Linked DNA regions of Homo sapiens. The protein of the gene in region 4 purifies or fractionates together with the protein of the main gene of each other region. This does not show direct contact. Each region holds a gene or a part of one and is shown on either strand. Other genes may lie near its edges.

Region 1 (3,599 bases), on a different chromosome or scaffold from region 4:
GTAATTGCCTGTAAGTTTTAAATCTGCCTACAATTGAAGGATCTGCCACAAAACAATCTTCCCTGTTAAAGAAGGAAAAGACTTTTCTCTACAGAATTCTGAAGAGTGTTACAAACACAAGTAAGAAGAATCTTTGTGAATCTCTAGTTATATTAAACTATTCAGGGCCCACCAAAATTCAGTACTTTAGCCATAGAAAAAAAGTACTAGCAAGAAAAAAAAATGAAATGCTCCTACTTATAAAACAAGCCCAACATGACACCTTTCAATATCATAAAGGGCCAGAACAAACATAAAGAGTGATTTTGAATTAATCCAGGTTCTTTCCTTTATCTAGGCTTGCCTGATAAAACAAAATTATAATCAAACTCAAAAAATAAAAAATGCTACCAAGCCTTACTCATTTTAAAGTTTCTAAAGAAAAGCCCATACAGTTCAACTCTAGACACACTTTTATTTTATAAAATTGAGCAGGTACCTGAGATGGCACTGGCTTTTCACCATGCTCTGAGTCCTCTCTTACTGAATGATCTGACAGTTTCCGTAGGTATTCATTGACTGCTTGGGTGTCAGGGTATGATGGTATGTTTCTGGCAGAGGAAATTTCAGTTGTTCCCATGACATTTTGTTGAGAGGACATGGCATCGCTGCTTGTGATCTGAGCACTTACTGCATTCAGTTCAGTAGCAACAGACTGATCATTTGCTACAAGAGTGTTCTCAAATACTTCTTCCTGCCTGTCAAGGGTTTCAGTGGAGGGGCTGAGAGCAGTGCTGGCATGGTTTTCTGCCTGAGATTCTGTCAGTGTCACACCTAATGGGCAACAATGACTGTCTGATATAATCACATGGTCTTCTTTGTCAGTCATAGTAATCAAGAGCTGGCTGCACTGGTTGCATCGTTCTGGGACTGGCTTCAGATCCTGGGAAGGGAGGCATTGTACAAGGGCTAAGCTGTGGAAAGCACCACAGGCAACTTGAAGCACCACTCGCCCAGCAAGATGTTCTACCTTTTGCGGCTTTGTCACTGGGAAGGCAGTGGTAATGAGACCCAACTGACAACCGGTACCCCATGCCCAAATCTCTCTGCTTATTGACAATGCCAGAGTGTGCTCCTCGCCACACGCCAACTGTAAAATCCTGACTGCTAACAAAGGGCTGGCCTCAGAATCAGCAATGCTGACAGGATTTGGTTCCGGCACATACTGCTGGTTGGCTACTGCACACTGGCCAGCAGAATTCTCTCCCCACATGTACGCGACACCATTGTCTGTCACTGCTCCACTATGGAAGCTTCCTGTTGCCACAGTAATAACATATTGCCCAACCAGGGCATTTTCTAGAATGGGGCTACTTGGACAAATCTCCACTGGTCCACTTCTCCAGGGAAGAGTCCCAAAGCTGTAGACCTCACCATCTGAAGGTTAAAAAAAAGAAAAAAGAAAAAAAAAAGGGTTAGTGAATTAACTAAAAATTTTAACAGCAAACTTTTAGTCCCCTATAGATTTAACCAAATTGGATTTTCTTTTTAAATTTTCAAAAGCAGTTGTAGAAATCTGGTTCAAGCACACAGTATTTCACATTAATTCATCTTTTTAAAAATGACTCTTTTTAATATTCTGCACTATAGTGAGAATTTCTACAAAGTGCAGGAGGCTAATCCTTTCCTTCAGCCTCATCCTACAAACTCCTCACATCAATCCACTCCTAACGGCCATCATCCAGGCTATTATAGAAACAGATTCCAAGTGTTCAAAGGCAAAATAAATAACCATGTTAAGATAAAATAAGCAAAAAATAAGACAAAACAGACACATTCACTAATATCTACAATTCACTACTACTAAACAAGTTGGAACAGCAAAAAATTATGCAATGGCTTAAAAATATTAGCGATTCATTTTGGCCAAAACTAAGAAATTAACTTTATGCCTCTAGGCTGTACAGGAAGCACCAGTTCTTAACAAGACATGGCTGTCTTCACTTTGTATGTCACATTATATATAGTTTTGAGATGTTACATAAATATACAGGTTGAGTATCACTTATCCAAAATGCTTGGGACCAGAGGTGTTTTGGATTTCAGGTCCAGGTTTTGGAATATTTGCCTTATGCTTACTGACTGAGCATCCCAAATCTGAATGTTCCAATGAGCATTTCCTTTGAGCACCATCACATCAGCACTCAGAAAGTTCTGGATTTTGGATCATTTTAGATTTCAGATTTTTTAATGTGGGATGCTCACCCTGGACTTTATGTACTAGATACTAGCTAGTCTTTCTGAGGTGAGATTTGTTTAAAAAGCAAATCAGCTTCTTCTCTGAAAAAACATCAAATGGCAGATGAAGCTAGGGCAGCAGGAGGGCCCAGAGGCCCCAGAGACCCTGGGATGGGGAACCACAGTGACTTCCATGGAGGCTTGGGCAGTGGCATCTGGGGCCAGGGTCGGGGCCACAGAGCTCAAGGAGGCAAGGCTGAGGATAAGGAGTGGACACCCATGACCAAGCTGAGCTGCCTGGTCAAAGACACGAAGATGAAGTCCTGCTGAAAACCTATCACTTCTCCCTGCCCATCAAGGAGTCTGAGATCATTGACTTTTTCCTGGGGACCTCTCTCAAGGATGAGGTTTTGAAGATTGTGCCAGTGCAGAAGCAGACGCGCACTGGCCAGCACACCAGATTCCAGGTGTTTGTTGCCACTGGGGACTACAATGGCCACTTGCTCCAAGGAGGTGGCCACTGCCATCCAAGGGACTATCATCCTGGCCAAGCTCTCCAATGTCCCCGTGCACAGAGGCTACTGGGGGAACAAGATCAGCAAGCACCACGCAGTCCCTTGCAAGGTGACAGACTGCTGTGGCTTTGTGCTGGTGCGCCTCATCCCTGCACCCAGAGGCACTGGCATTCTCTTAGCCCTAGTGCCCAAGAAGCTGCTGATGATGGCCAGTATCGATGACTGCTACTCCTCAGCCAGGGGCTGCACTGCCACCCTGGCCAACTTCACCAAGGCCACCTATGATGCCATCTCCAAGACCTACAGCTAACTGGCCCCCAACCTCTGGAAGGAGACTGTATTCACCAAGTCTCCGTATCAGGAATTCACTGGCCACCTCGTCAAGACCCACACCAGAGTCTCCAGACAGAGGACCCAGGCTCTAGCTGTGGCTACAACATAGGGTTTTTATACAAGAAAAATAAAGTGAAGTAAGCCTAAAAAATGTTAAAAATAAAAAGCAAATCATCACAACAGAACAAAGCAAAAAAGCAAATGAACCTGTCAGAATAACTGGCTAGCTTTAGAATTAATGAAAGGCACCAGTGAGTTGGGTATATAAATAACTCATGTATGTCCAGCTATGCTACCAAGTCTTAATTTTACTGTAGTATTGTGGGAGCTTGGGAGCAGGTACACATAAGCTATGCTGGCTAAAAATTCAATGAAACAAAGACTTGGCTACGGGTTTTAAAAAATACTGAGCCAAGCCCACTATCCTTTCTTTTCCATATGACCAGAGATTTATGATTTTTTTTAATTAATGAAGAAATAAGCACTGTTTTTTTTCTCATAAGGCAGCAATTGAGTTGATGATGAAAACATGCA
Region 2 (3,599 bases), about 51 Mb from region 4:
TCTTGCTTGGAATGAAGGGCAAGCCTGGCTGTGTCCGAGATGACACCAATCACCCACGATTGGGCTGCAGTGCAGACACTCACCATCCTGGTGGAAGAGCTGGAGGATGGCAGACTCCTGCGGGTTGAAGAAGAGTGTGGCCATGTCATTGTAGGTATCATTGGGACAAAAAAATGTCTTGATACTTGAATTCACATCTTCTGTGACCTGAGAAGAAGGAATCAGAAAATCAGTACAAGGACACCTGACTTTGAGTCTTCAAGTGGGATGTCTCCAGCCGGGTCCAAAACAGGTGGCTGCACAGCTTTCCCCATCAATCAAACAGGCCAAAAACTGACCTCTACCAACGGCAGCCACACGGGCAAGTGTATTCTTCACATTCTGAATGCACAGATGAAAGAATCGGGATGAGGGCCTTTTGTTCATCCACACTCATGATGAAAATGTCACTATGGCCGTGATTCACCGTGAATTTGGTTCTGCTTCCTCTCCCGGTGCTAACTTTCTAAGTGATGCTGCTAGAAGCCTGGCCTGAGAGCCCTAGGACTGGGGGAATATGAGGCAGGTGAGAGCAAGTGACTGGGAGTTGACAGGTATCTGGGGAGGAAAATCCAGGGCACCACTTGACCGAAAGCCCCAACTCTGGTTCCAAATAGAAAAAGCCTTTGATTTTGCTGCAATTTGCTACAAAAAAAAAAAAAGCACCTGAATTTGCTGCAAAAGAAAACCCACCTCCATAATGCCTGGAGAGCAGACCCAGTCCTCCAGGCTGCCTCTCCTTCTAGACCCCATCTGGGGAACAAAACCCAAACAGAAAAAGAGATTATTTCTTCTACTACTTCTACACATTTTAGACCTCATTTTCTTGCCATCATTCTGTGTGGGAAGATGGGATCTTTGCTAGAAGGCAAGGGTGTTTCAAGTGTGCTGTTTTATTTTCTAGTTGACAGTGTACAACGGTACAAGGTTGTACTTCACACCTATCACTGTGCATGCAAATAGGGAGTCTTATTACAAAGGTTAATCAAGGCTATGGGTTTCTTCTGGATGACACAGCTGTGGAGATGCCATTATGTGGACGTGCTAACAATACCAGGGGGTGGTTTGTGTGACCCCGCCAGGTGAAACGGGCTGGGCAATATAGACGTATGCAGGCTGCTGTGCAAACAGCACGGCACTGCTGACTGGCAGCACCTGGCACTGGTGAGCCATGTGCAGAGCCTCAGCGTTGTGGAGTGCACGGGGGATGAGCTCAGCTGATGGCTTCATAATAGACACATGCAGTGTTTCCCAAACTGTCTGGAGGAAGTTCAGTCCTGAAGGCTTTCCAGAGAGTCCTGTGGTCAACTGCACTGAGAAACATCCTAGCAATTCTTGGAAATCAGTGTGTCTGCTAAAAGCTGAGCACAGGCTCCAAAATCAGATGGCTTTGTCTCTAAACTCTGCCACTCTCTAGTGACGTTGAGAAGGATATTTCATTTTGTGAGTTTCCTCACCTATAAAATGGTAACAACACCTACCCTCTCACTATATATGACTAGCTGAAGGTTTTTGGTCAAGACCATACTGTGCCTCAGCTTCCTTAGCTGTAAAATGGGGGCACAGCTACTGGCCAGCAAGCACAGTGCTGATAAGGATTAAATGAAATCATATAAAGTACTCAGTGGAATATCTGGTACACAATAAAGACACCAAACATTTATAACACTTATGGGAATAAGGCCCTAGAAGTTCTGTACTAAAGGAACGTATTTAGGTTGGGTGCTATGGCTTGTGTCTATAATCCTAGCACTCCTAAAACAGGAGATCATTTTAGGCCAGAAGTTCGAGACCAGCCTGGGCAACATAGTGAGATCCTGTCTCTATAAAAATAAGCTGGATGTGGTGGCATGCACCTGTAGTCCCAGCTACTTGGGAGGCTGAGATGGGAGGATCGCTTGAGCCCAGGAGTTTGAGGTTACAATAAGCTATGATCACACCACCGTACTCCAGCCTGGGTGACAGAGTGAGATCCTGTCTCTAAAAAGATAAAGAAGCATATTTAATTCCTAGCCCATTTGACCACAGAATCGTTTTTTGTATGCTTTAAATCACACGCATCAAGGTATCTGTCTGGTAATGAGCTAGGCTTGGGAATAACTAGTAACAGGGGTCGGCAAACTTTTTCATAAAGAGCCAGACAGTAAATATTTTAGAAGTTGCCAGTGATGTACAGTCTCTGCGGCATATTCTTTTTTTTCTCTCAACCCTTTAAAAATATATAAACCAGCTGGACACGGTGGCTCACGCCTGCAATCCTAGCACTTTGGGAGGCCGAGGTGGGCGGATCACAAGGTCAGGAGTTCAAAACAAGCCCAGCCAAAATAGTGAAACTCCGTCTCTACTAGAAATACAAAAATTATCTGGGAATGGTGGTGCGTGCCTGAAGTCCCAGCTACTTGGGAGGCTGAGGCAGGAGAATCGCTTGAACCCAGGAGGTGGAGTTTGCAGTGAGCCGAGATCTTGCCACTCCACTCCAGCTTGGGCAACAGAGTGAGACTTTGCCAAAAACAAAAACAAAAACAAAAACAAAAACATATATATATAAACCAGGCTGGGCGTGGTGACACACCTGTAATCCTAGCAATTTGGGAGGCCGAGATGGGTGGATCACTTGAGGTCAGGAGTTCGAGACCAGCCTGGCCAACATGGTGAAACACCATCTCTACTAAAAATACAAAATTAGCTGGGCATGGTGGTGGGTGCCTGTAATCCCAGTTACTCGGGAGGCTGAGGCAGGAGAATCACTTGAACTTGGGAGGCGGAAGTTGCAGTGGGCCAAGATCGCGCCACTGCACTCCGGCCTGGGTAACAGAGTAAGACTCCGTCTTAAAAAAACAAAACAAACAGAAATATATAATGTGTGTTTGTGTGTGTGTGTGTGTGTGTGTGTGTGTGTATATATAGTGTGTGTGTGTATATATATATATATATATATATATATAATATATACATATAACTGGGGACACTGAAGAGGCTGTCCTCCAAGACAAGGGCCCCAATGGGGATCTGAGAGATTCAAGTGGTTACAGAGAAGCAACAAGGAAAGAGTACAGTTGTTCCTCAGTATTCACCAGGGATAGGGTCCAGGATCCCGATGGATACCAAAATCCAGGGATGCTCAAGTCCCAGATATAAAATGGTGTATATTTGCATATAACCTATGTAGGTCCTCCTATATACTTTTAAATCATCTCTAGATTATTTATAATACCCTAATACAATGTAAATGCTATGTAAATAATTGTTACACTGTACTGTTTTTTATTTGCATTATTTTTTACTGTTGTCTTGTTCTTTTTTATGTTTTGCATCCTGAATATATTTGCTCCACAGTTGGTTGACCCTACGTAATTCCATGGATGCAGGACCCACAAATGTGGATGGCCGACCGCACTTAGAGAATGCTCACCTGTCTGCAGCCAAGGGCTGGAATCACACATCTGGCTGACTCACTGAACCACAGGTGTAGCTCTCAGAGCCTCCGGGTTGGACCGAAAGAACACAGCGTGGAGTAGGCTCCACGGACTACCTCATGGGACCACTCCTCAGGGAAAGCC
Region 3 (3,599 bases), on a different chromosome or scaffold from region 4:
GGCCGAGGTCAGTAATCAAGAGGTCAGGAGTTCAAGACCAGCCTGGCCAACATGGTGAAACCCCATCTCTACTAAAAATACAAAAATCAGCTGAGCGTGGTGGCGGGTGCCTGTAATCCCAGCTACTCGGGAGGCTGAGGCAGAGAATTGCTTGAACCCTGGAGGCGGAGGTTGCAGCGAGCAGAGATGGCGCCACTGCACTCCCACCTGGGTGACAGTGAGACTCCATCTCAAAAAAAAGAAAAGGAGACCTCTCTACCCCACCACCTGGGAACATCATTGGACAAGCTCATAGTCAAATTTTACTTGATCCGATAATACATCAGTGGGGAGTGAGGAGGGAACAGGGTTGCCCCTTTTTTTGGGAGGTGAAGGAAAACGGTTTGAGTTTTTTAACTTTTTGTTATGGAAAAATGCCAACATATAAGAAGGAAACACAGTGGTATAGTGAAGCCCCCTGTACCCTTCTCCCAGCTTTGTTATCAGCATTACATCATTCTTGTGCCATCTGTTCCTCACCCCATCTTCATGATGATGACCTTCATTATAGTTGTTTTGGGTAAAATTGACAGACATTGAATCACATGAATGCAGCCATACAATTTTGACCAGTGATTATACCCATGTAACCCAGGAATGTCAGCCCCATTATGATGTAAAACATTCCCATTTCTTTAGAAAGTCCCTTAGGCCCCTTCCCAGTTGGAGGTTTGGAGGGTTTTGTTTGTGTTTTAATATTCTCAGAGGGCCTAATTAGTTTGTGTGTGTGGCGGGTCACCTAGCTAATGCTGTGAGCTGAAAAACGTCTGAGAGAAGATAGTACTGTTGTTCATCTCAAAATAACCCATCACAAACACTGAGCTTTCAATTCATTCAGAATATTTTTTTAGGAATAAATCTTGTAAGGTGAAAGTGCTGGGGAATATGTAACAGATCTTGTCTTCAGAGTTACTGAAATGTAAGATGTCTGCTTTTTCTCTTTTAAAGAATCCTCGCAAGGCTCGTGTAACTCGGCGTTTCATTGTAGTAGAAGGATTGTATATGAATACTGGAACTATTTGTCCTCTTCCAGAATTGGTAAGCAACCATGTTCAGCTGTAATTTTAATATTTGGACTATTTGACAGATGTGCCTTTTGTTTATGACCGCTTTTAGTGTATAACGTCTGCGTTGCTTTGCGCATTAGGCCTCATAAGCATATTTTGCTCAGATCAGGGAAGAAGAACAACACTGAATGCCAGTGCTGGCCTTCAAAGAGTAATCAAGACTGCTCTGTTGCCCAGGCTGGAGTGCAGTGGTGTGAACACAGCTCACTGCAGCCTTACCCTCCTGGGCTCAAGTGATCCTTCCACCTTAGCTTTCTGAGTTAGCTGGGACTACAGGCACATGCCACCACACCTGGCTGATTTTTCCCTTTTTTGTGGAGTAGGGGTCTCACTGCGTTACCCAGGCTGTTCTCAAACTCTTGGGCTCAAGCGATCCTCCTGCCTCAGCCTGCCAAAGTGCTGGTATTACAGGTATGAGCCACCACACCTGGCCAAAACTTAGCTTTAGCTTTTTTTTTCTCCCCCGCAAGACAGTCTTGCCCTGTCGTCAGGCTGGAGTGCAGTGGCGCCATCTTGGCTCACTGCAACCTCCTCCCCGAGGTTCAAGCAGTTCTCCTGCCTCAGCCTCCCGAGTAGCTGGAACTATAGGCGTGCGCAGACACCCCCAGCTAATTTTTGTATTTTTAGTAGAGACGGGGTTTCACCATGTCGGCTAGGATGGTCTCAATCTCTTGACCTCATGATCTGCCCGCCTGGGCCTCCCAAAATGCTGGGATTACAGGCATGAGCCACTGAGTCGGCCATACGTAGCTTTTAAGATCCAGCTTTATTTAGGTGAAATCAACGTATAAAATACACCTACTTTAAGGGTAAAGTTTGATAAGTTTTGACAGATGTATATACATCTGTATCACTGCAGCCATCCACCACCACAGTCAAGATACGGAATATTTTTATGTAAGACAATGTTTATCCAGAAAGAAAACTTTATCCAGAAAGCTTCCTGATGCCTCTTGGTAGTGAGTACCCATGTTGGCCCCAGACAGCCATTAATCTACTTTCTATTCCTGTAGATTAGTTTTACCTTTTGTAGAATTGCATATGAATGAAAGCATAGCTTGCTTTTTTGTTTTTTTGTGTTTTGTTTTTTGTTTGAGATGGAGTTTCACTTATGTTGCCCAGGCTGGAGTGCAATGGCACGATCTCGGCTCACCGCAACCTCTGGCTCCTGGGTTCAAGTGATTCTCCTGCCTCAGCCTCCCAGGTAGCTGGGATTACAAGCATGTGCCACCATGCCCGGCTAATTTTGTATTTTTAGTAGAGACAAGGTTTCTTCATGTTGGTCAGGCTGGTCTTGAACTCCCAACCTCAGGTGATCCACCCTCCTTGGCCTCCCAAAGTGCTGAGATTACAGGCGTGAGCCACCACGCATGGCCAAAACTTAGCTTTTTAATAGTGAAAGCAGCATAACTGTTTTTAGAAACCATGACCATTGAGATTTCCTTTATTGAGGTGAAATTCACATAACACAAAATTAACCAATTTAAATTGTACAGGACAGTGACATTTATTACATTTACCATGTGTGCAACCATCAACTTTAGGTCAAAAACCTTTTCATGACTCACGAAGAAGACCTCAAACCCATTAAACAGTCACTCCCCATTTTCTTCTCCCTCTAGCTCCCAGCAACTACCAATCTGCTTTCTGTCTCTATGGATTTACCTTTTCTGGTTATTTCCTATAAATGGCATCATATAATATATGACCTTTTCTTTCTGGCTTCATTCACTTGATGTTTTTAAAGTTCATTAACATTGTATACCATGTATCAGTATTTCATACCTTTTTAATGCTGAGTTATAGTCCATTGCATGGATAATACCACGTTTTGTTTTATATGTTCATCCACAGATGGATATTTGGGTTCTTTCTACCTTTTTGCTATTGCAAATAGTGCTGTTGTGAACATTTGTGTACAGGTATTTGTTTGAATTCCTGTTTTCAGTTCTTTTATGTATATATCTAGCAGGGTAATTGCTGGATTATATGGTAATTCTGTGTTTAACTTAATAAGGAACTGACATACTGTTTTCAACAGCGATTGCACCATTTTACATTCCTATCAGCTATATACCAGGGTTACAGTTTCTCTACATCTTTGTCAGCACTTATATTTTCCAGGGTTTTTTGTTGGTTTGTTTTAGCCACCCTAGTGAGCATGAGGTAGTATCTCACTGTGGTTTTGATCCTGTTTCCCCCAAATGGCTAATGATGCTGAGCCTCTTTTCTTGTTTTTTTTTTTGTTTGTTTGTTTGTTTGGCCATGCGTATACCTTTGGAGACATATCTATTCAGGTGCTTTGCCCATTTTTTAAATTGGGTTGTTTTTTTGTTTTTAAAAGAATTCCTTGTATATTCTGGATACTAGATGTTTATCAGATACATGATTTGCAAATATTTTCTCCTATTTTGTGGGGGTTTGTTTCATTTATTTGATACTGTCCTTTGACACACAGTTTTTAAAAATTTTGATGATGTCCAGTTTATGTGT
Region 4 (3,599 bases):
AAATAAGATGTAAGGAGTTTAAATGACCTCAATCATGTACTTGAAGACCAAAATAAGAATTATTAATGACACCTAGGCTGTTTTAAGATAGCCTTAAGCCTTGATCTTATCTCTAAGAAGAACATAATATTTACCACACAGTTGTTTGATAAATACATTTTAATTATGTCAGGTTCTTAGTAACCTCTGATAAGTCGAAGGTAACTACGAATACTTGGAGCCTCCCTACTTCAAAACGCAACTTTCCAAGCTCTTAATATTAACTCACGGTGTTAACCTCTTATATAGAGATAGTAGTCTTTACATAAGAGGTAACACCGTAAGTTAATATAGAGACTTATATAGAGACTTATAGAGTCTTATATAGACTGCTATCTTTACATAAGAGGTAAAGAGTCAAATCATTTAATCAACAAAGTATAATTAACCCCTACAAGAAATGAAGGATGTTAAGAATCTCAGGACTGAAAGAGAATTTATAAAGCATCTAATAACTAATACTTTTTTTGTTTTTTGGTGTTTTGTGTGTGTGTTGGTTTTTTGTTTGTTTTTTTGGTTTTTTTTTTTTTTTTTTTTTTTCGAGACAAGGTCTTACTCTGTTGCCCAGGCTGGAGTGCAGTGCCAAATGCCTTGATCTCCCAGGCTCAAGTAATCCTCCCACCTCAGTTCCCTAGTAGTTGGGACTACAGGCAGGCACAACCACACCTGGCTACTTTTTTCTATTCTTTGTAGAGATGGGGTTTTGCCATATGGCCCAGGCTGATCTCAAACTCCTGACCTCAAGTGATCCGCCCGCCTCAGCCTCCCAAAGTTCTAGGACTACAGGCATGAGCCACTGTGCCTGGCACTAGTAAGTATTAATATTAACAGTAGTTCTTGACCATTGTCTCACACAATACAAGCTATCATTAATCCTTCCTAATCAATAGTACTTGGGTGGAGAGGAGTAGTGAAAGAAAATGTGTAAATTTAAAAGAATTTAAAAAATCATGGCCGGGCGCGGTGGCTCACGCCTGTAGTCCCAGCACTTTGGGAGGCCGAGGCGGGCGAATCATGAGGTCAGGAGATCGAGACCATCCTGGCTAACACGGTGAAACCCCGTCTCTACTAAAAATACAAAAAATTAGCCGGGCGTGGTGGCAGGCGCCTGTAGTCCCAGCTACTCGGGAGGTTAAGGCAGGAGAATGGCGTGAACCCGGGACGTGCAGCTTGCAGTGAGCCGACATCGCGCCACTGCACTCCAGCCTGGGCGACTGAGCAGGACTCCGTTTCCAAAAAAAAAAAAAATCACTACCACCCTGAGAGCTGTGATCTGCTCTCTGGTTCAGACTCACTAATAACCAGCTACTACTTGGGTTCAACCACCTATACAGTAAAAAGATCTCCTTTAAAACATCCTTGCCAACTGCAGTCCCTCAGCCTCTGACTGAACACTTACTTCTAGAAAAGGGAGGTCAGTACTAAATGAATATTGTACTAAACTCAAAATATGCTATAAATGTAAAAGCCTGATGATGTTTTAAACTGTGTATTTTCATATCTGTTCTAGAGCATCCATAACTGTTTTAGAGTATCCATAGTAACTACATGATACCTGCTAATTTTAAACAACTAGATTTGCTAAAATGATATTATGTGGAACCAAGTTTCTGTCTATACATTATTTTCACTAACTGGTCCTGGTTGTAACCTCTGAAACTAATCCTTCCATTGGAGAGCCCATCTGATATTTAAAGACATACCTCCTAACCTCCCTATCCCCCAATCTTCTCTTTTCTACATTAAATGTCCCAATTCCTTCAACTGATCAGAAGACTGTCTATGAGTGGTAATGAGAACCTCAATCAGGGTACTGGTGAAAGGATTAGAAATGAGTAGATAAGGCCGGGCGTGGTGGCTCACACCTGTAATCCCAGCACTTTGGGAGGCCGAGGCGGGTGGATCACGAGGTCAGGAGTTCAAGACCATCCTGGCCAAGTTGGTGAAACCCTGTCTCTACTAAAAATACAAAAATTAGCCGGGCATGGTGGTGGGTGCCTGTAATCCCAGCTACTCAGGAGGCTGAGGCAGAGAACTGCTTGAACCCCGGAGGCAGAGGTTGCAGTGAGCCGAGATTGTGCCACTGTACGACAGCCTGAGCGACAAAGCAAGACTCCATCTTAAAAAAAAAGAAAAGAGTAGATAAAAGTAGCAAGTTGACATGGTAGACCGAGCAACATCATACAAATATATGGATGTGTATATGCCCACATACCAGAGAGGAGACTAAAGTGACTATGAGATTTCAGGTCTAATGTCTAGGAGCATAATGGTTCCATTAGCTGAAACAGGGAACCCAAGTAGAGAAGACTAAGGTGAAGATAGGAAATTCAGTTTAAGATACAGTGATTTTGAGGTATGTAATAAGTAAATATGAATGTTATCATGGTGCCTTTAAGAGATGACTGGGTAACTGGGGTTCTGCCCTCATAAATAAATTAATTCACTCATGGATTAATGGATTAACAGGTTATCAGAGGAGTGGAACTGGTGGCTTTACAAGAAGAGAAAGTGAGACTGGAGCTAGTGTGTTTAGCTCCTTCACCATGTGATGCCCTGCACCACCTCAGGACTCTGCAGAATCCCCACCAGCAAGAAGGCCCTCACCAAATGTAGCTCCTCAACCTTGGACTTTTCAGCTTTTGTTAACTATAAGGAATAAATTCCTTTTTTACATAAATTACCCAGTTTCAGTTATTCTGTTATAAGCAATGAAAGACAGACTACGACAATGGATAAGACCATTTCCAAGACCCATTATATTAGTTACTCTTGCCAAGAAAAAGGTGCATCCATATTACTGAAGCTAGTACTACATGTAATTTAAACACAAAATATCACATTTATTCATCAAGTATTTGAGTGGTTACTCCTACAAGGCACTGAGGGAGATACAATGAGCCATGAAACCCAGTATCTGCCCTCATTAATCTTACATTCTAATAAGCAAAATGGTTATAACTAACCATAAGGCTGAATGTGGTTATATCTCACAATAGAGATATAAAGTATCATAACTATTAAGAGACATATTTTCCCCCTTTCCAATGAGAATATTCACACATGAATAATATCACAGGGTAAAATACAGTCACAACAAGTATTCTTCAAATACAAAGAAGGACTTAACAAAAAACATAAATCTTTCCATTCTGGTTATAAATACAGGAAAACATTAGACCTATTACTTGGGAATTAGTTAAAGTACCCCCAACAATTATGTCTATTGTTAAAGATTAATGCTTGAATTGTATCATCAGTTAAAAGAAGAGCATTGTTTAAAATGTTCACAAACACAATTGTTTTGGTTTACAAATGGAATCACTTGATGTCACTTTTCTTGCACTCCTAATTTTAAATATCATTATAACTGAAAAAATAGAGCTACAAGTTTAGAGCTTACAAGTCTTAAAACTTAATATTCTCCAGCTGATATAACTGTTCTAGAGTTCTCTATAACTATATATTACAAAGTTTTAAATTATGTCACTTTAGTAGTTTTACAGATAACTGATTTTACAAAGAGTATATTAAAAAGTAATTTAGTAGGAACCTAACTA

What was found.
Region 1: the proteins of ATG4C (region 4) and ALS2 purify together in Homo sapiens (affinity purification with mass spectrometry; one large-scale study listed by BioGRID and IntAct). This does not show direct contact.
Region 2: the proteins of ATG4C (region 4) and CLCN6 purify together in Homo sapiens (affinity purification with mass spectrometry; one large-scale study listed by BioGRID and IntAct). This does not show direct contact.
Region 3: the proteins of ATG4C (region 4) and SPTLC1 purify together in Homo sapiens (affinity purification with mass spectrometry; one large-scale study listed by BioGRID and IntAct). This does not show direct contact.

Annotation. Positions count from the first base shown.
Region 1 is NC_000002.12:201,760,403-201,764,001, forward strand, and holds part of ALS2 (alsin), read right to left. Parts: intron 3,209-3,599; exon of another isoform or gene 2,312-3,208; intron 1,417-2,311; coding exon 479-1,416; coding exon of another isoform or gene 401-478; exon of another isoform or gene 1-400. UniProt on the Homo sapiens protein: May act as a GTPase regulator. Controls survival and growth of spinal motoneurons.
Region 2 is NC_000001.11:11,830,123-11,833,721, reverse strand, and holds part of CLCN6 (H(+)/Cl(-) exchange transporter 6), read right to left. Parts: intron 208-3,599; coding exon 84-207; intron 1-83. UniProt on the Homo sapiens protein: Voltage-gated channel mediating the exchange of chloride ions against protons. Functions as antiporter and contributes to the acidification of the late endosome lumen.
Region 3 is NC_000009.12:92,052,883-92,056,481, reverse strand, and holds part of SPTLC1 (serine palmitoyltransferase 1), read left to right. Parts: intron 1-987; coding exon 988-1,077; intron 1,078-3,599. UniProt on the Homo sapiens protein: Component of the serine palmitoyltransferase multisubunit enzyme (SPT) that catalyzes the initial and rate-limiting step in sphingolipid biosynthesis by condensing L-serine and activated acyl-CoA (most commonly palmitoyl-CoA) to form long-chain bases.
Region 4 is NC_000001.11:62,790,578-62,794,176, reverse strand, and holds part of ATG4C (cysteine protease ATG4C), read right to left. Parts: intron 1-3,599. UniProt on the Homo sapiens protein: Cysteine protease that plays a key role in autophagy by mediating both proteolytic activation and delipidation of ATG8 family proteins.